Regions from separate parts of the Homo sapiens genome. Here region 1 is linked to region 2. A link means that fine-mapping ties the variant in region 2 to the expression of a gene that starts in the linked region. Tissue or cell type: whole blood. Region 2 holds a variant in brackets; the other region holds the start of a gene. All regions are shown on one strand. Distances are between the middles of the regions. Region 1 holds the start of TCL6 (T cell leukemia/lymphoma 6). Region 2 holds the start of LOC124903372.

Region 1 (9,683 bases), 12 kb after region 2:
AGAGACTCACAGTAGAGCACATCACTGTCAATGACAATCAGAGGCTGAATGCGGTGGCTCATGCCTGTAATCTCAGCACTTCAAGAGGCTGAGGCTTGAGAATCCTCAGTGAGAAGTTGGGCTCACCTTCTGTATTAGTCAGGGTTCTCCAGAAAAACAGAAACAATAAAATAGATAGATGGATGGATAGATGGATGGATGGATGGATGGATGGATGGATGGATGGATGGATAGATTGATAGGTAGAGAGACAGACACAAGACATATACAGATGGATATACATTTATTATAAAGGATTGGCTCATGCAATTGTGGAAGCCAAGAAGTCCTATAATCTAGAAAGATTGCTTGAGGCCAGGAATTTGAGACCAGCCTGGGCAATATAGCGAGATCACATCTCTACAAAAAATTTAAAAATTAGCCAGCCATAGTTGCACATGCCTGTTGCCCCAGATACTCAGGAGGCTGAGATAGGAGGATCACTTAGGCCCAGGAATTCGAGGCTGCAGTGAGCTAGGATTGCACCACTGCACTCCAGCCAGGGCAAAAGAGTGAGACCCTGTCTTTTAGAAAAAAAAATTAAAATATTAAAGAATGTCAGAGAAAAAAAATAGTTCAATGATAGTAATAGCTAACATTAATTCAGTTCATTAAATTCCAGGAACTATTTTAAGTATTTTATGTGTAACTTCTAGTGAGAAAAAACTGGTCTCATTAATAAACATGTTGGAATTTAAAATGCCATCAAATCTCAATGGCCATGTTGAGTGCTAGAAGATGAGGGGGCAATGCCTTCAAAGTTCTGAGGGGAAATATTTCCCACCCTAGAGTTTGTGAACCAAAAAATATCTGAGACAGGTCTCAATCCATTTAGAAGTTTATTTTGCCAAGGTTAAGGACATGCCTGGAAGAAAAGGACACAGAATCACAGAAACAAGTCTATGATCTGTCCCTTTCTCCAAAGATGATAGTGAGGGCTTCAATATTTAAATGGGGGAAACAGACATGGAAAAATTCATCTCTGGAGGGGATAGAGGAAGGGTATGGTAATCCACACATTGCAAGAGGAGAAGAGCAGCTAGGGAATAGTCAGTTACATATCTGTCTCCTGCTCAGTAAATCAGCACTTTACATAAGATAAGGTGAACATGGAGTAGCTACCTGTGGAGATATTTAATCTTTTATCTGTAGCCATCTACTTAGGAGCAAAAGAAAAGGCAGTTTCTTGCATGACTCAGCTTTCAGCTTCTTTTTTTTTTTTCCTTTTGGCATACTGAATTGGGGTCCTGAGTTTTTATTTTCCTTTCACAAGTTCAACATCCAGTCGCATTATTAATCAAAGGTTAGGGTCAAACAAAAACATTGTCAGATAAGGAGGGGCTCAAAAAATGGGTCTCCTGTGCACCCTTTCTTAGGAAGCTACTGGAGAACAGGTTTTAGCAAAAGAAGATAATAAGAAAGAGAAAAATGCATGTTAAAAGATAATTTTCAAAAACAGGTTAAATGATAACTCAATATAGATATAAAAATGAATATGTGCTGTAACAGTCCATTTGCACACTGCTATAAAGAACTACCTGAAACTGGGTAATTTATAAAGGAAAGAGGTTTAATTAACTCACAGTTCCACATCGCTGGGGAGACCTCAGGAAACTTACAATCATGGCAGAAAGCGAAGGAAAAGCGAGCACCTTTTTCACAAAGTGGCCAGAGAGAGAGAGAGAGAGAGAGAGAGAGAGAGAGAGAGAGAGAAGGGGGAACTGCCAAACACTTTTAAACCATCAGATCTCGTGAGAACTCATTCACTATATGGGAACACCATGGGGAAAACCACCCCCCATGATCCAATCATCCCCTACCAGGTCCATCCCTTGACACACAGGGGGATTACGATTCAAGATGAGATTTGGTGGGGACACAGAGCTAAACAATATCACGTGCTGCTCAAGATTATGTTTAACTCCTCAGTGAAGAAACTGAAGAGGTGTGACAGCCAATTCAAAGGAGAATCTGAAGGACAGGCACATTTATTGATCAGAAATATTGAAATGGGCTGGGCACAGTGGCAAATGCCTGTAATCCCAGTAAGTTGGGAGGCCAAGATGGGAGGATCACTTGAGCCCAGGAGTTTGAGACCAACCAGGGAAACACAGGGAGAGCCCATCTCTATAATTTTTTTTTTAATTTGCCAGATATGATGACACGTGCCTGTAGTCTTAGCTGCTTGGGAGGCTGAAGTGGGAGGATCTCTTGAGCCCAGGAGGTTGAGACTACAGTGAGCCGTGATTGCACCACTGCACTCTGGCCTGGCACAGAGGGAGATAACCTAAAAAAAAAGAAAAGAAGGAAGAGAAGAGAAATATTGAAATGAATGTGTAAAATGGAAGCAAACTAGGGGATTTGGGGGGAAGTGAGGAAGGGTTGTCTCTCTTCAAAATATAAGCATTTGCATATCCATAGACAAGAATTATTTTTCATTTCTATCGGTTATCTGTAGCTTTCAGAATGGTAAAATAGGTCCCATAGAATTGGAATCAGATAACATGGAAGAGTATGCCCTAGACAGAGAAATATTCTGTTCCTTGCCTCCCACTGAAGCAGAGTGTTTTCTACAAATGCAATCCAGGTAAAGGAGAATACCTGTTAGGAAGCCTGGGAAGAGCATTCCGGGGTGGGGTTGGGATGGGCTGAGAGATGCCAATCAACTTGTGAATACACAGCTAAACAAACTCAACAAAACATGATTTGCTTTTGTTTTTTTGAGACAGAGTCTCACTCTGTCACCCAGGCTGAAGTGCAGTGGCATGATCTTGACTCACTGCAACCTCCACCTCCTGGGTTCAAGCAATTCTCCTTCCTCATCCTCCCAAGTAGCTGGGACTACAGGTACCTGCCACCACGCCTGGCTAAGTTTTTTATATTTTTTAGTAGAGACACAGTTTCGCCATGTTGGCCAGCCTGGTCTTGAACTCCTGACCTCAACACCATGACTGGCCTAAACAAAATATGTTTTAAAAGTCTTCTCCCAGGCTGGGCATGGTGGCTCCCACCTGTAATCCCAGAACTTTGAGAGGCTAAGGCAGGGGTATTGCTTGAACACAGGAGTTCAATACCAGCCAGGGCATCATACTGTGACCCCCATCTCTATAAAAATAAAATAAAAATCGTATCCCTGTAATCCCACCAATTTGGGAGGCTGTGGTGGTAGGATCACTTGAGGCCAGAAGTTTGAGACCAGCCTGGGCAACACAGTAAGACCTCCATCTATACAAAAAGTTTTAAAATTAACCAGGCATGGTGGCGCATGTGTGTAGTCTCAGCTACTTGGGAGGCTGAGAAGGGAGGATCATGTGAGCCCAGGGAGGTAGAGGCTGCAGTAATCCATGATTGCACCACTGCACTCCAGCCTGGACGATAGAGTGAGATCATTAACAAATAAAAACAGTCAAGCTCTGTAAAATATTTGAAGAGATTTATTCTGAGCCAAATATGAGTGACCATGGCCTGTAACACAGCCCTCAGGAGATCCTGAGAACTATGCCCAAGGTGGTCGGGGTGCAGCTTGGTTTTATACATTTTAGGGAGACATGAGATGTCAATCAAATACATTTAAGAAATACATTGGTTCTGTCCAGAAAGGTGGGACAACTTGAATTGTTGGGTGGAGGTTGGGGGCTCCCAGGTTACAGGTAGATTTAAAATTGACTGGTTGACAATTGGTTAAGTTTATCTAAAGATCTGGGCTCAATAGAAAGAAAATGTCTGTGCTGTGATAGGAGGTTGTGGAGACCAAAGTTTTACCATGCAGATGAAGCCTCCGGGTAGCAGGCTTCAGAGAAAATAGATTGTAAATGCTTCTCATCAGAGAGGTATAATGAGTCCTGTCTGACCTCTACTTTCCATCATGGCCTGAACCAGTCTTTCAGGTTAAAAGTACCCTGGCCCAGGAGGAAGTCCATTCAGATGGTTGCAGGGAGGGCGGGGCTTAGAATTTTATTTTTGGTTTACATCCTGTCTCAAAAGAAAAAAAAAAAGAATAAAAGAGTTTTTGGTTTACACCCTGTCTCAAAAAAAAAAAAATGAAAGAAAAGAAAAATCTCAAGGACATCTAAAAGCTGATAAGACAGAAATTACCAGGCCAAAAATAAAAGGGAAGTAGAATGCAGAAAGGGAAAAAAAACAGAATGGAAGCTGCTTTTTCCCTGAGAGCTTTTTCAGAACCTGAAAATCAGAACTTGTTTGAGCCTCCCGGAGACTGGTGGAGAAAGAAGTCCAGCCAGGCCCTGCCCAACTCTAAAGGAAAACCCAAACTTGTCGATATTTGATGAGACTATAAATCGCTTGCCTCTTTTCACTCTCTGGTGCTCCAGCAGCACAGCCCCACACCAACCTTCATCTGGAGTGTCTCAAGACCTTCTGGAATCTTCTCCCACACATACCTCCTTACACAGGTCCATTCTGTGAAAATAAGCAATTCAAAATCTAAGCTGTTGGAACTTTAAAATATTTCGAGCCTTAAGGGAATTTGATCATGGGACCTGAGTCATGTAAACAGGCAGCTGCAACCTTTGTTTCTCTGATTATAGATTAGCCTTTTTCCTTACTTACATTGTTGTGTAAAATGTCGTATATGACTGAAGCGTTCCAGGGAAGACCCCTTTCCTCTTCACTGTTGATCTTCATTATAGATTAACTCCCTCTTTCCTCTCTGACAGAGACTTCATGACCATCACATTGTCTGGGATAGAATGTTAAACACATTCTTAAATTGGAAAGGAAATGAAAACAAGCTGTAGAGAAAAGAAAACAAGGTGGAGGCAGGGGAACAACCTATAATTAATTATAGGTTGTAACTCATAAACCAGCCTTGCATAGAAAATGTTAAACAAGAAAGTTAAAACAAGAAAAGTTATACAAGAAAATGTTCTACAAGGTTACTAAATGTCTTTGCTTTCTGCCTATGTAAGCAAGACTTTAACTTTTAACTTCAGGGCCCTGGCCCCATTTTCCTAGAGTCTGTGTTTCTCAGATGGCCATTCCCAGCTTTTGGCTTGAATAAACTCTTTAAAACTGGATTCTGGGCTGGGTGCAGCGGCTCACGCCTGTAATCCCAGCACTTTGAGAAGCTGAGACAGGAGAAATCACTTAAGCCCAGGAGTTCGAAACCAGCCTGGTCAATAAAGTGAGACCGATTAAAGAGAAGTAAACTTAAAAACGAACAAAAACAACTTTGTTTTTAAAACTTAAAAACTTAAAAACAACGAAAACCCTGGATTCTGATCCTTTCAATTACTTTATATTGACAATTCTACTATGGGTGCTGCCCAATCAGCCTTGTAAAGCACAGGGCTGACCACTTCAACTCCCTGCTGAGGGTTGAATCTGGAATAAAATCCAGATTCCAGAGCTACGGTGCCCTTAGATCTGGGGCTGTTGCTTTTGTACTTCTGTTTTTCCACTTTACTTAGCTGAAGCACAATCCCTACAGCAAGCTAAGAAAGGAAAAGGTCCATTCCAAAACCCTTCGCTCCCTAGACCACTGCTCTGTGTGCAGACAACGAAAACAGCCGAGAGTTCACACAAAAGGGAAGGACTAACTGCCCGGGGCAGGCTTCAAGGAATGCCTGTTAAGCCCCAGGGAGGAAGTGGCTGTTGACTTGGGAAGAGTCCGTTGGGTAGTCAAGGGCTAAGGTGGTGGTTGACATGAAGGCAAATTTTCCATGCCCTGGTGAGAAGTTGGAATCCTTGCTGTGAACGTTGGGTAGTACAGTTTGCAGGACCATTTGCTTGGCTATTGGGTCCCACCTGTTGACAGGTGCCAAGCCTGATTTTCCTTGGCCTTCCCTCCTGATTTAGCTGAACACCAACCTTCTCAACACAACCCCGAAGTACACCTTGCTCAGTTTTTAACAGAGCTGCTAGATTTCAAGGCATGATTCTCAGCACTGTGTCCGGAATTGGTGGGTTCTTGGTCTCACTGACTTCAAGAATGAAGCCGTGGACCCTCGCGGTGAGTGTTACAGCTCTTAAGGTGGCGTGTCTGGAGTCTGTCCCTTCTGATGTTCAGATGTGTTCGGAGTTTCTTCCTTCTGGTGGGTTCGTGGTCTCGCTGGCTCAGGAGTGAAGCTGCAGACCTTCGCGGTGAGTGGTACAGCTCTTAAGGTAGCGTGTCTGGAGTTGTTCATTCCTCCCGGTGGGCTCGTGGTCTTGCTGGGCTCAGGAGTGAAGCTGCAGATCTTCGCGGTGAGTGTTACAGCTCATAAAAGCAGCGTGGACCCAAAGAGTGAGCAGTAGCAAGATTTATTGCAAAGAGCAAAAGAACAAAGCTTCCACAGTGTGGAAGGGGACCCGAGCGGGTTGCCAATGCTGGCTCGGGCAGCCTGCTTTTATTCTCTTATCTGGCCCCACCCACATCCTGCTGATTGGTATAGGGATAAGCAAGTACCTAGCCACCACCATCTTTGCTCCCAGCGTGGCTCACCTGCCTAGCTCAAACCTTCATGGAGCTGTGATCTGTACCCCAGGATACAAACAAAAGTGGGCACCATCCCATGGTCCATATCAAATTCATGACCAGCTCCCAGAGGACCCTCCTGCTGCCATGCTGATCCTCAGGCTGCAGACCTGCTTGACTCTTCACACCTGGCTACTACTGCACTCCAGGATTCTCAATATGACCCCTCCATCCACCCAGCTGCCAGGACCAGAAACCCTGGCCATGCAGTAAGAATTCACTCAACAAACACTGAGCCCCAACTCTGGTCAGGCACTGGGGACAAATCAGATGTGGCTCTACCCTGCTGCAGCTTGCAGTGTGACTGGGAGTGATGACGGTCCCTAGCCTCAGCCTGTCACCTTGCATCCGTCAGTCCCACATCAGCCCGTTTACCTCAGGCTCAGATTGTCCATCGCAGGGACCATGCAGCTCAGTGTTGGCCCTGCCTCTGGGCTTGCCCCTCCAGCTCCCCCTTCACTCTGCTTCCAGAGATACATTGCCCATTCTAATTTAATTTTACCTCTTCCCAAATAAAACTCCTCAGTAGATGCCAATTGTTTTTAGGATAAAATTAACCACCTTGTTTTGGCACCCACAGGACTGCATGACCCTCATGCCAGGCCCCCAGCTCAGACATGTTGGTTCAGATGGAGCACCTGGCAGTTCCTTGAATGGGTCACACCCATCACACCTCACACTGCTGCCATGCTGGCCTTGTGCCATGAATGTCCCGCCTCCTCCTGCATGGTGCCTTGGTCAGATAGGCTTCGACTTGTCTCCCATATTTCAGAAAGTCTTCCCTGCCCCTCCAAACCAGGCTCCATGCCCTCTGGTTCCCCATAGCGCCCAAGCCACGCTCTGCAACAGCACACATCGTACTGAATGGTAAATATTTACAGTCTGTCTTCTACACTAGACCATGAGGGCCTTGAGGACGAAGACAATAAAGCCATTCATTTCTGCATCATCAGAAACTAGCCCAGCACTCAGTATATATGTACCTGGTGAATATTTACTATATGAATGAATGTAATGATTAAGTAATGTGTCTAGACTTCATGTTTGGCCCACCGGCACTAATAATACCTCCTTAATCTTTCTCTTCTGACACTCAACTTATGACCCCCTGACTTGGATTCCCATTAAGGACTGAAAGTTTGTGTTTCCCCCCAATTCCTAGGTTGACACCCTGACTTCCAATGTGACTGTGTTTGGAGGTAGCACCCTCAAAGGTAGACAGCAGCAGTTTATTGATCCTGGGCCACTTTCCAGAGACCACTCTCCTAGGACAGACCATTGAACTCTTATGGGTCCTCCTGGGACCAGTCACAGCAATTTGGATTTATCTACCCCAGAAGGTAAATGGGTCAAAACAACACATTAATTAGATTAACTCCAAGGCAAAATTCTGTCTCTTTTTTTAACTTTTTATTGAGAAATAATGGTAGATTTGCATACAGTTGGAAGAAATAATATGAGAGATTCCATATATTCTTCATTCACTTTTCTCCTATGGTTCTCCTTGGTTTCATCATAACCAAGAAAGCCCTGGTTGATAATCCACTGTATTCAGATATGACCCATCTTATTAGATATGATCCACTGTATCAGATTTCCCTTTACATGCACTTATTTGTGTGTGTGCGTGTGTACGTGCACATTTAGTTATATGCAATATATCACATGCACAGATTCATGTAATCACCACCACAATCAAGATACAAAACAGTTCCATCAAAGGGACCCCTCAAGCCACCCTTCTATTGCCAGAGCCACCTCCTCCCCACTCGCCTGGCAAGTACTAATCTAGTCACCATTTCTATACTTCTGTTCTTTCAAGATTGCCATCAAAATGCAATCATACAGTATATAACATTTTCGAATTGACATTATCCACTCAGCATAATTATCTGGAAATTCATCCAAATTGTTGTATCTGTTAAGAGTTCACTCCTCATTATCAATGAATAGTATTCCATGGTATGCACATACAACAGTTTAACCATTCACCTGTGCAAGGAAATTTGAATGGCTTCCAGTCTCGATTTTGAATACAGTTGCTAGGAACATTTGGGTACAGGTTTTGTGTGAACATCAGTTTTTATTTCTGGGTTTATGGTAGTTGCATGTTTACTTTTACAAGAAACTGCCAAGCTGTTTTCCAAAGTGGCTGTACCATTTTATACTCCCACCAGCAACGTGGGAGAGATCTAGTTTTTCCACATTCTTGCCAGCATTTGGTGTCTTCATTATTTTGTATTCTAGCCATTCTGATAGGTGTATAGGGGTATCTCGTGATTTTAATTTGCACTCATTTAATGGCTAATGAGGTTGGACATGTTTTCATATGGTTATTTACCATCTCTATATCCTCTTTGGTGAAATGTCTGTTCACATTTTTTCCTCATTTTCTAAGTAGATTGGTTTTTTACTGTTGAGCTTTGAGCATTCTTTGTATATTCTAGCAACTAGGAATATGGGCTCTATCTGGAAGGAATTCTGATGGATATAGTTACTTAGCTATTACATCACTTTATATACAGAGTTTGGCAACCAAATTTTCAAATCAGGAATCCAGGGAAGAAGAAAACAATGAGTAAGAGAAGTCCTCAGTGTGGAAATTTTGAGAATGGCTTACAATGTCTCAGTATCTCAGACTGCTGGCTTCTGAGGAGCCCCACTAAGACCCTGCTGTCCCCATGTGGGCCTGTCTGGGGCAGGCAGCCTGATTCTTATCCATCAGGTATCAACATCCTCAGTGACATGGGGCAGACATCCCTGACACCATTGCCAATCAAAGCCCATTACCAGCCCTGCTGTCCCACCCGCCATCACTGTCTTTCTTGTGCAGGTAGCTGGCATGGGAGACACAGAACAATTTATGAGCCACAGCCTCAGGGCTTGGTTTGGCCAACAGAATCAGAAATCCAGCTTGAAGGCTGCTGCTATATTTCACCCTTCCACTTCCCTTTGAACACGTTTCAGAGCTATTGATCTTAAAAGTAGAAGATTAGTCACTTCAAAATGAGGCTCAGAGAGTGTGCTACAGAGGAGAGCTGTTCTGAGGATTACAGGCAGCTGCCCCTCCTCCTTCTACTCCTCCACTCCAGCATCCTCATCTAGGCCCCTGGGGCAGGTCTCCCAACTGGAAACTCCTCAACGGTGAGGGCAGGACAATTAAAAGAAG
Region 2 (11,451 bases):
AGAAGACATGGAATTCCAGGCAGAGGGAACAGCATACGCAAAGGCAGAAAGGCAAGAGGTGCTCAGCAGGCCCAGGGAGTTGCTAAGAGCTCAGTATAGCTGCAAAGTAGATTGTAAAGTGTGGAAGGCAGCTTCTAAAATAGCTCTCAAGTTCTTCACCTGCAGTTTATCCTTTGCATGGTCCCCTCTCCTTGAATGTAGGTATGACTTGTGCCTTGCTTCTAACCTGTAGAAAACAGGACAAAGGTGACCGGGCGTGGTGGCTCACGCCTGTAATCCCAGCACTTTGGGAGGCCGAGGTAGGCGGATCACGAGGTCAGGAGATGGAGTCCATCCTGGCTAACACGGTGAAACCCTGTCTCTACTAAAAATACAAAAATTAGCTGGGTGTGGTGTTTATTTATTTATTTATTTATTTTTCAACTGAAAAAGCTTAGTAGCCCAGCCCTGTGGTTATCCACTAACTCCAAAGTTATCAACTAGTGCTCAGCTAGTTACCTGCTTATAAACACCAGAATTCTAGCTCAGCTTCAGCAAAGATTAGTCAATAGCTGGCAAAAAGAAACACAGACAGATGGACAAGAGCCAGAGAACACCAGAGACAAGAGCGAGGCTGATTAGGAGGCCAGAGCTGCGAAGCCAGACAGCCAGCAGCCTCTTTCCAGCCCTGTTCCTCCACCACGTCGTCACTCAGGTTTCTCTTTCCTTTGCTGCTTTCCTGGCTCACTTGAATCAATTTACAGGTGACTCCATACACCTGTCTGCCTCTGCACTTCCAACCCCAGTGGGGTCTTCATCCCTATCCAGAGGAGGCTGGGGAGTGAGGATTGGCTTATCCAACTCTGGCTGAGGGCAGCTTCTGGAACAAAGAGGCTGCTTAGAACACGCCCATGGAAAGAAGTCGAATTGAATCCATCAGAATTCCCCACTTGTTGATGCTGGAGTGAAGTGGAGACATTCCATTCCATGAGGCCCATTTTGTAGATGGGGAACTAAGGCTAGAAAACATGTCCCTTGAGCCTTGCTTTTAATGATGACAAAGAGACAGCGGTGTGTAGTACAAAAGGCCTTGAACCAGAGATGCAGAGATCTGGGCTTTACTTGTACCTCTGTCAGGGACGCCCTGGGTGACTGCAGACAAGCCACTTATTCTCTAAGTTTAGGAGAAAATCAGAAATTGCTGATTCATCACTCACTCAGCAAACATTTCTGGAGCCTCTTTGACGTGCCAGGCCTGGGGATAACTATTGAAATATGTGGGCTCCAAACTGTAGCCAGATCACATCACGGAAGTTGGGTTTGGCCCTGCGGCCACCTGTCCGCGTGGCTTTCGGTCACGTTTTCTCACTTGCTGTGTCTTCTTCACATATGTGTAAATGAGAGAAAAGAAGGGCCTGTTTTTCATGCTGCTGTGCAGTTTGAATAGTAACGTAGGATGTGCACAGAGCAGCCCTGGCCTGCAGAGGCTCTCAAGCTGTAGACAGCATTGGTCAATGGACTGCTGCAAAGAACCAGCAACAGGCAGGACATGCAGTAGATCAGGGTCTGGAAACACTTCGTCCGAGCCACACACCTCTGGAAACTTAGCAGGAAGGCTTAATTTGAAACATTTGTGATCATACTTCAGGATGTCACTTGTAATTCCCGTGATCTGCAAAAAGGTGAACGTTCACACTCACATTTAATAGCTTCATTCTAACATCTCGGGTACCCCATAAATACATCACTCTGCACCCACAAAAATTAAAAATAAAAAAATTTTAAGTTGTTTTATGATATAAAAATAGCTTGAATCTAACCAAACTATAGACAAAATCATGAGTTTGATATTCTGGTAACTTTTTGGAAATACATAAATGCATATTAATCATTGCAATTCTCTATCTTTGCAGCAGTTATAGCCTATCGGGGAAAAATTCAGAAAAATAGAAAAGCATTATAGATGGGATGGAATCATTAACAAGAGGTAGATTATGAAAATTTCCAAATGAGGGGCATGAGTAGTAGGGGTGACCTGGGCTTCCAAAGGTGCCTCTGGCCACAGAGTGAGGCAGGAGATTCCAGGTGAGCCCAGACAGGAGCAAGGAGGGGGTTGGGCTTGTGACCAGAGCTCGAGTCTGGGAAGGGCCTCCACTGGCCACCCTGAGCACAATGAAGGTGTGGTACAATACCCAGCAGGGGCCTCACCACGTGCAGACATGGGCCCTCACCCCCTCCTGAGCTTAGAGCCCCCAGGGAGGCAGGCAGGAAGTGGTGTTTGCAGACAGCTTTCAGCAGAGTGCCCAGCAGGTGCCCTTTGTGCAGATGGTACAGTTCCCAGGAGCTCTCTCTCAGTGCCCTGCCCTCCAGCCCCACCCCTGGTTCCAGGGAGGGCCACACTAGGGCAGGATCCAGCAGGACAGCAAGAAGCCAGCTCCCTGCCTGCCTGACTACAAGGTGCCTTTTGGCTCTCAGACAGTGCAGTAGTGGAGCAGTGGAGCTGCAGCCAGCCAGAACCCGGTTCAAATTTCAACTCTGCCTCTTACTAGCCGGCTGACCTGGGCACTTTCTTCCTTTTCTGGCCTCTGTCTCCTTTTCTGTAAAACTGAACATGAATATCTGTCTTGTTGGACATTGCATCCACCCGATGTTTACTGGGCATCAGTTAGGAGTTAGGCATTGTTCCTGCTGTGAGATCCCACTGATGCCTGGGGTGACGGATCATCATACTCAACAGAGCTTTCATTTATCAAGTGCTTCTTCTATACCAGACCCGGGATGAAATGCTTTACAGCTAATATCTCGTTTAATCGTCACCAAAAGCCAAGCAGAGGTCGAATCATCCCATTTAACAGTTCAGAAAAAGAAGTCTCATGAGGTGAAACAAGCTGCCCAAAGAGTTTCAGCTTAGCACAGCACAGCTGGGATGGAACCAAGGCCTGTGGGACACCAGCCTGCTTCCCAGCACCTCCCAAGGGGTCCACACCTGGGACATTCTGGGGAAATGCCTGGGATTAGCCAAGGTCCTTGATCCCCTTCCCACACTGCATTGCACACAGGACGGGGCACATTGAGTGTCCATAACCAGTCAGGAGTGACTGGTGGAGGCTTGAACAGCGTGACCAAGCATTCCACCTCACATCAGGGGTCCTGCCCCTAAATCTCAGCGGGACCGCAGCCAAGTGGCTCCCTGACTGGGCCTGGGCAATGAAGAGATGACAGTTGATAAAGATCTTTGGAGAGTTCTCAGAGCACTGATCAAACATAGAGTCACCATTTGGATCAGAGGGAGCTCGTGTTGCTGGCCTTGGATGCTGGCCTGCCACTCTCTAGCTTTGTGACCTTGGGTAAGTGACTTAACCTCTCTGAGCCTCAATCCAACTCAGTTTTCCTGTCTGTATTCCAGGGATAGTAGTAATGCCTTCCTGACAGAGCTCAGAGGTTAAAGGAGATGATGGAGGCAAAGTGCCAGAGCATGGTGCCAGGCCCCAAAGGGTGCAATGATGTGATGGGATCATAAGAAGAGCGGGTATGGTGGCAGCCCCATTTCCCTGCATCCTCCTGGCTCCAAGCATGGGAGGCAACACCCAGTAAACCTGTGGAATTGAGTTGAATCTACCAACCCCAGATAAGAACCCATGTGCAGTGTCATGAAACCACTTGCAGTTATAGGGTAAAGACCTCAGAGGAAAAAAATATGCTTTGTTGGCCGGGCGCAGTGGCTCACGCCTGTAATCCCAGCACTTTGGGAGGCCGAGGTGGGCAGATCACGAGGTAGGAGATCGAGACCATCCTGGCTAACACGATGAAACCCCGTCTCCACTAAAAATGAAAAAAAAAAAAAAAATTAGCCGGGTGTAGTGGCAGGCGCCTGTAGCCCCAGCTACTCGGGAGCCTGAGGCAGGAGAATGGCGTGAACCGGGGAGGCGGAGCTTGCAGTGAGCTGAGATCACGCCACTGCACTCCAGCCTGGGGGACACAGTGAGACTCCGTCTCAAAAAAAAAAAAAAGCTTTGTCCACAGTCCAGGGTGGGAGGCCAGTAGGGGGCTTTACTGAGCAGGGCAGAATCTGTTTTCTTTCCCTCCATATTAGAGTCAAGACCATGTAGGGAGCTCCAAATGCCACGCCTTTCCCCAGCTGGTGGCTGCTGTTATGCTGAACCCCTATCTACTCCAATGGGGATGGCAGCAGGTTTGAGAGGCTGAAGAAAGGACCCAGGGCTGCTGAAGGAGACATGGAGTTTTACTGGGGCTTACATGCAGGGGAGAGCATCTAGCAGTGGTGGGCTGGGCAGGAGAGCCACACAACTTACAAAAAGCTTGCAGCATATATAGCATCTTCACTTAGCACCCTCCCCCAACAGTGTCCACCTGGCAACATTTACCTAACCCAAAACAAAGGGCCTTGATCCCCTGTACTGTCCGTGTTGCACAGGACGGGACAGGAGCTCAGATGTTCCTCATAGATAAGGAATAGGAATGAATCTCCAGGTTGGCCACTCCCAGATTCCTTAGCTCAGAACTCCAAACCACATTCACCTGCACCTGCCATAAGGGTCATTCTCAGGGGATGCTTAAGTTATTGCTATCAGGTGCGTTCACTGTAAGCGGCTTTTGGGGAAATCACCTGCTGGGTCTGGAGGAGCAGGGCTATCATAGGAGAAGGTCCCCCAGGTTCAGAAGAGCCTGGTAATCTCAAGCATATCACCTCCAGGCCTCACCTTCCCCATGCATCCATCCAGGGGCCTCTTCCTCTGTGTCACTCTGGGCTCCATCCTCTTGGTGCATTTGGAGTCAGACGAGACCTGGGTTCAAATCCTTGGCTGGAGGGATGCAAGATGCACGTGGAAGGAGAACCAATTCATCCTGTCCAGGCTCTTCTAGAGCAGCTGGTCTCCTGCCGACCTGTCTAGCTGACCCTAGCACCAGAGCAAGCTCAGCCAAGGTGGGCCAAGCCAGGCCCCGGTTGGCAGAAACACTCAACTGACTTGACACATGTGGGCAACAATAAGTGCTTGCTACATTTCGGTGTGGCTTGTCATGGAGCAATAGCTCACTGGTGTAACCAAGAGGCAGCAGAGCTGTGCGTGCGGTAAACAAACAGCAGTCCAGCTGCCAAGGAACATTTCATATACGAAGGCAGGAAGCCGTGACAGCACCTGCAGTTTACCAGCAGGGT[A/G]GTTATGAGGCCTGGTGCTGTGGGGGTCCTTCTACCACGAGAGAAGCCAGCCTGGGGACAGAGGACAGAGGAGACCCTATTCCCCACTTGTCCCCTCGTGTGCTCCCACATGGCACAGATATTTGATGCTCAGAGCTGTGCCAGGCATCTTACAAAGGTGAAGGAAAGGAAAACTGTATAAATGGGGATGCCAGCTCAGTGCCCTGATCTGATGAACCAGTGCTGGAAGCTTCTGTTCAGGGATAAAAATAAGCCCTTCTTATTTCAGCTACATTGGCAGGCTTTCTGTTGCCTGCTGCTGAAACTCCTATCTGATGCACAGTGGCTGCCTGGTCCCCACAACTCCCTGATTTCTGCAAGACCAGGCCAGACACCAAGAACCTCCCATTCTGTCTCCATGCCAGAGGTCTGTGCCTAGTTGGTGCACTTCTGAATGCAATTAAAAAGCTTGTTTGAGGCCAGGTGCGGTGGCTCGTGCCTGTAATCCCAGCACTTTGGGAGGCCGAAGCAGGTGGATCACTTGGTCAGGAGTTCAAGACCAGCCTGGCCAACATGGTGAAACCTCGTCTCTACTAAAAATACAAAAATTAGCCTGGCATGGTGGTGGGCACCTGTAATCCCAGCTACTTGGGAGGCTGAGGCAGAAGAATCACTTGAACCCGGGAGGTGAAGGCTGCAGTGAGCCGAGATCGCGCCACTGCATTCCAGCCTGAGTGACAGAGCAAGACTCAGTCTCAAAAAAAAAAAAAAAAATGTGTTTGGTGCTCAGCCCAAATGTGGGACAGTCTGTTTCTATTTTATTTTCTCTCAATTGATTCCTTGTGAAAAGTTCTTAACCTGCTCTTTTAAAATACTCTGTGTCACCTCTCCCAAACAGCACAATCCAACAAGGTGCTGACACTGTTCCAAATTGCTGTCCACTTAAGATTAAAGTCCAAAAAGAAAGGGAGAAAATAAATCACAAGACATGAAACTGGCCTCACCACTGCTGTCCCCTCTTTGGCTCCACACACACTCTCAGACTTTCTGTTTCTGATTGCAGGTGTGTAGCTGGAAGGTGAACTGAGATAGCATGAAAACAGGTGGCATGGGCTGCAGAAAGAGCACTGGGGCAGGAAACCTGGATCCTGCGCTGCTCGGATGCACTTGGCTGTGTGACCTTGGACTTGGCCATCCACTCTCTGGGCTTCGGTTTTCTCCTGTGTTCAGGGAATTCTCACTAAGTCCTCTTCCCATTCTGCTCCTCTGTGAGTTGAGTGAGGATCTTTCTCTTTAATTTCAGCCTCCATCTTGTAAACCAAGAAGTATCTGAGACAGGTCTCAATCGATTTAGAGATTTGTTGTGCCAAGGTTAAGGACATGTCTGGAAGTAAAAAGACACGAAATCACAGAAACAGTCGCTAGTCTGTGCCTTTCTCCAAAGATGATTTTGAGGGCTTTGATATTTAAAGTGGAAAAGTAGGCTGGAGAGGAGAAAGGCAGTGTATGGTCACATGACTGAATCCACATGTTGCAAAGGAAACGGAGTAGGTAGGGGATAGTCAATTACGTATTTGTCTCATGCTCAATAAATCAGCAGTTTACGTAAGATAAGGTGAACATACAGTAGCTACCTGTGGAGCTATTTAACCTTTTATCTGTAGCTATCTACTTAGGAGCAAAAGGAAAGTCAGCTTCTTGCATGACTCAGCTTTTGGCTTTTTTTTTTTTTTTTTTTTTTTGCCTTTTTGGCATAGTGAACTGGGTTCTGAAGTTTTAGTTTTCCTTTCAGAACCTGCAGCTGCAGCTGTGTCCCATGAGTGTGGTAAGGCTTAGGGTGTTTTTGGAGATGAGCAGACCCAAGTTTTAATTCCAACTATGATGCCCAAATGCTAAGTTAATGTTGGACAAGTATTTAACCAATCTGATCTTCAGTTTGTCATCTGTGAATGCGGAACAATAATAATAATAATACCTTCTTTTGATAATTAGAGATAATGCATATGAGATATAAGCACAGAGCAGATGTTCCATGGCTGGTAAATATTCTCCCTCTTCCTCTTTGTGTGGTTGTCTGCTTGCTGTGTGTCTATGGAAGTCAGATGAGCATTTGCCCAGAGGTTGGTAGATGGAGCCCACAAGCTCATAAGAATAAAATAACTAGAATGGAAACAGAAAATTAGATGTTCCATATGTTGTAACTCATTTTTGGCTGGAAATTATAGAGACCTTGGTTGGGAGTGTCATTAGATACTTGGAAAGGATGGGCGATGATTAGCACAGGTGGCTGGAGATGAACTCCCTGAACCGGCCCTGACATCTTGTTAGAGAGAGAAAAGCTCACATAGGTGTGAGCCTAGAATTTCAGTTAATATGCATTTATTCTGTATCTTGTCATCACAAAGTTGAGTTTCGCAGTCTGCTAAGAAGAGCAAAGAACTTCCCAATAATATTGAAAGGTAATAGTCCTAAGGACCTTGAAAAGCTACATTTGTTAAGGAGTTTACTGTAGAATAGCATGCTTGTTCAGTAAAAGTGAAAAACCACCTTTGTCACAGGTGGTTGATTTCACCGGACAGCGCTGGCGATCATTAACCCACCATGACCTCCCACATTCGCCTTCAGTCACCTCCACCTGTTTTTGCCGGATGCAAAGTATCTGTTTGATGCCAGATAAGTATTTGTTTTGCAAATAAGAATAATGTGGCCGGACGCGGTGGCTTACGCCTGTAATCCCAACGCTTTGGGAGGCCAAGGCAGATCACCTGAGGTCAACAGTTCGAGACCAGCCTGGCCTACATGGCAAAACCCTGTCTCTACTAAAAATACAAAAAAGTTAGCTGGAGATGGTGGTGCACACCTGTAATCCCAGCCACTTGGGAGGCTGAGACAGGAGAATCGCTTGAACCCAGGAGGCAGAAGTTGCAGTGAACCGAAATGGTGCTACTGCACTCCAGCCTGGGTGACAGAGTGAGACCACATCTAAAAAAAAAAAAAAAAAAAAAAAAGTTTAAGTTCTAGATCTACAGATGATCCTGGATCGCCCACATAGGCCCTAAATGTCATCACAAATGTCCTTATAAGAGGGACAGAGGGACATCTGACTGCAGAAAAGGAAAGGCAACGTGAAGACGAAAGCAGAGGGAGATCTGAGGATGCTACACTACTGGCTTGGAAGAGAAGCAAGGGGGACGAAGGGCCAAGGAATGCAGCTCTCCAAGCTAGAAAAGTTCAGGAAGCAGATTCTCCCCTAAAGCCTCAGGAGAGAGCACAGCCCTACCTTGGTTTCAGCCCAGTGAAACTCGTTCTGCACCTTTGACCTCCAGAACTACCAGACAATGTTTGAAGGCACTCAGTTTGTGGGATTTGTTACAGCAGCCCTAGGAAGCTGACATCCCTGTTAAGGCTCAGCGTTGTTCCCAGACAGGGGACTGAGAGCAGGATCCATCCAGCGCTGCTCAGATCTTGCTGTTACCTTCAGGAGGTCCCAGGGAAGAGTTTGGAAAAGGGGAGGCTTTGGGTGTGGAATAGTTAAGTGACTTGTCATACAACCACACCAGAGGACGCTGTGTGGGTGTTAAAAATGACATCCCACAGAGCTTGGATGATGCAGGGAAATGCTTAGGATATAATGCCAAACAAAAAGAACAAGGAGGGAGTATACGTAGTAGAATTGGGCTGTGCTAAAAAGGGGGGCAAGTCCGGTCTGAGAGCAAACAAAACAAAATATTGCAAAATGTACCCAAGGGCTATCTCTGGCTGGGGGGACTCTGGCGACGGCTGTTTACATTGTACTCTTCTGTGTAGGGTCTCCTTTAGGAGGGCTCAGGGCTGCAGAGCAGCAGCCGCTAAGTGAGCAAGTTATAGCCAGAAGATTTTCAAATGTCAGCAGATTGGGAGCTCTGAGATAACATCGGAGACCTCCCAGCTGCTGCTGGAACCCTCAGGGTTGGACCATGGGAGGGGAGGAGGGGGAAGGAGAGAGTGTTGGAAGAACTAAGGAGGCAAGTTACAGACAATAATCTGCCAGCAGACAGGTTTTCTAACCCACCTTGCCTGTGGCTGCGGCACTGTTCTCTTTTTGCTGAGGGAAGTGGGGGATACGAGATGTTCGCCTTTCCCATTATCTAGGTCTCTGAATTATTGGGAAACACACATCTAGGCAAACAGCAGGCTCATTTTAGCGAGCACTATTTCACACTGCTGCCAGCTGGGGCTGGATGGGGCTGGCAGGCATGGCAGCCTCCCTGTCTCCAGACCTGGGCTGAGACTATGCCACTGATCCCAGGCTGGAAGGTGACTTCTATCTCCAAAAGAGCTGATCCTAGTTATCTTGTTCTCCACGTGGTTTGGACATGAAGAAGCCCAGGACTGGAGGAAGAGAGAGCAGTGCCGGCAGATCACTGGGTGAAGCTGTGTCTATCCGGTGCCACCGTGACTAATAAATTGGCAGGGTCCTGTGTCCAGAGGAACCCTGGGCTGCCTAGTGGAGATAGCTGTCAGGACGGACCCTTCTAAACCAGGAGCATGGGTCTTGGCTGCTGGGTGAGGAGTGCATCTGCCAGCTCCAGACAGCAGGATCAGAGTGAGGAAGGGTCTTCTCCAAGCTCTGTGCTAATGGGAATCAGGCTGAGAAGGGACTTCCAACCTAGCAGAGCTCAGCTGGAGGCCTGGAGCAGCAGAACTGTCTTTTGGCACTAAAAATTAATAACGTGGAAAGCTGAGAAAGAACGAGGCTGTGAGCCTGCCCACCAGGCAGCCTGGGCAGAAGTCAAAGAATTCTATTTTTATCAAGAAGTGCCACGTTCTATTACACTACTCTAAAAGAGATGCTCATTTGTAACATGGCAAGGAAGTCTCGGTCAGGGGTAGCTCTGAAAGGAAAGGTCTGAGTTGTAGGGTGTGTGTGTGCATATGTGTATGTGCATATGTGTGTGTACATCTGTGTGCATGTGTATGCATACACATATATAAAATATAAATATATATAAAAATATATTTAAATATTTAAATATATTTAAATATATATAAATATGTAAATGTATATATATATAAATATATATGCATGCATGTGTACATGTGTGAGCACCTACAGGGGCTGTTCAGAGAAGCCAGAAAATGTGACTGCAGAGATTTTTAACACCTGCAGCCTGGCTGGACTGGAGGCACGTGCCTTCTGGTCGCTTCCCCTAGGCCAGATAAACAACCCAAGCATCACACCCAGGACCCTGCATATTCACTGCAAACTCCAGAGTCACTGGCCTCCCGTCCAAGTCTGCCCCTCCTGCTCTGGGTCCCACTTAGCCCTGCACAAACTGAGGCACATCTGAGATGCTGGTTTCCCCTCGCCCTGCATTCAAAGTGGGGCCAAATCCTCTCAACCCATTCCTCACCTCCCTCTTTTGACCCACCATCAAAATAGATAGAACACACCACCATCTACCACACTCTTCTCATTTGTTCCCTTTCCTCACCATGCACGGGCTACCTGAACCCCACACCTGAGCCCCATACCTAAGCATCCTCCTTCCTTCCTCCTGGTCTTGTACTTCCAAATCTCAGCAGCCACCATGGCTTTCCAGCTCTGCCCACTGATGCCCCCAAACAGGGCAGACTCTGGACAAATGTGGTAGAATAACTTCCTGCCTCTATCTCCTCCCTACCTCCTCAACTCTATGAAAATGATAGTAAGGGAATGAACTAAATAAAAGCTGTTGACCCACAGGGATGGAGAGAACAGGAGCTCAGGCAATGGCAGACAGGATCAAAGCACCCAACACTTGGGAGCAGCCTCAGAAGAGTTGAGGACAGTGTATGGTAAAGGTGAAGGGGGTGTGGGAAAGTGGAGGGGCAGGGTGGGCATCAAGAACAGAGACTCTCCAATAAATCCTGGGTTTGCAATCATCAGGCACCAAGAAGAACTGGCACTGAAAGCATGAGGTTGACTGAAAGTCAGTATACTGGCTGGGCACCGTGGCTCACGCCTGCAATCCCAACACTTTGGGAGGCTGAGGCAGGAGGATCACATGAGCCCAGGAGTTCAAGACCAACCTGGTCAACATAGGAGACCCCATCTCTACAAAAAATAAATTAGCTGGGCATGGTGGTGTATGCCTGTGGTCCCAGCCACTTAGGAGGCTGAGGCAGGTAGATTGCTTGAGCCTAGGAGTTCGAGGCTGCACTGAGCTGTTATCATGACTCTACGCTCCAACTTGGGCAACAGAATGAGACCCTGCCTCTACAAAAGAAAGTCAGTATACAGTTACCAGCTAGCACCCCAATCCATTTCCCTCACCTGCTCAAGCAGACCACAC

Evidence for each region. PIP is the estimated chance that this variant, and not a neighbour inherited with it, causes the effect.
Region 1: TCL6 starts here. The variant in region 2 is fine-mapped to the expression of TCL6 in whole blood (TOPMed, PIP above 0.99).

The regions. Positions count from the first base shown.
Region 1 is chr14:95,647,152-95,656,834 of GRCh38, reverse strand. It overlaps TCL6 (T cell leukemia/lymphoma 6), which reads right to left and starts at 4,738. Exons shown (of 8, transcript NR_028288.2): 1 at 4,609-4,738; 2 at 4,346-4,458; 3 at 2,209-2,326.
Region 2 is chr14:95,658,326-95,669,776 of GRCh38, reverse strand. LOC124903372 reads right to left here and starts at 4,964. Exons shown (of 2, transcript XM_047432042.1): 1 at 4,701-4,964; 2 at 1-1,651. The coding sequence starts at 4,754. The coding sequence ends at 1,280. It overlaps TCL6 (T cell leukemia/lymphoma 6), which reads right to left. Exons shown (of 8, transcript NR_028288.2): 4 at 7,113-7,297; 5 at 160-226. RefSeq lists enhancers at 2,417-3,063, 3,710-4,357, 6,427-6,506. The variant A/G (reference allele first, on the strand shown) is at 5,159.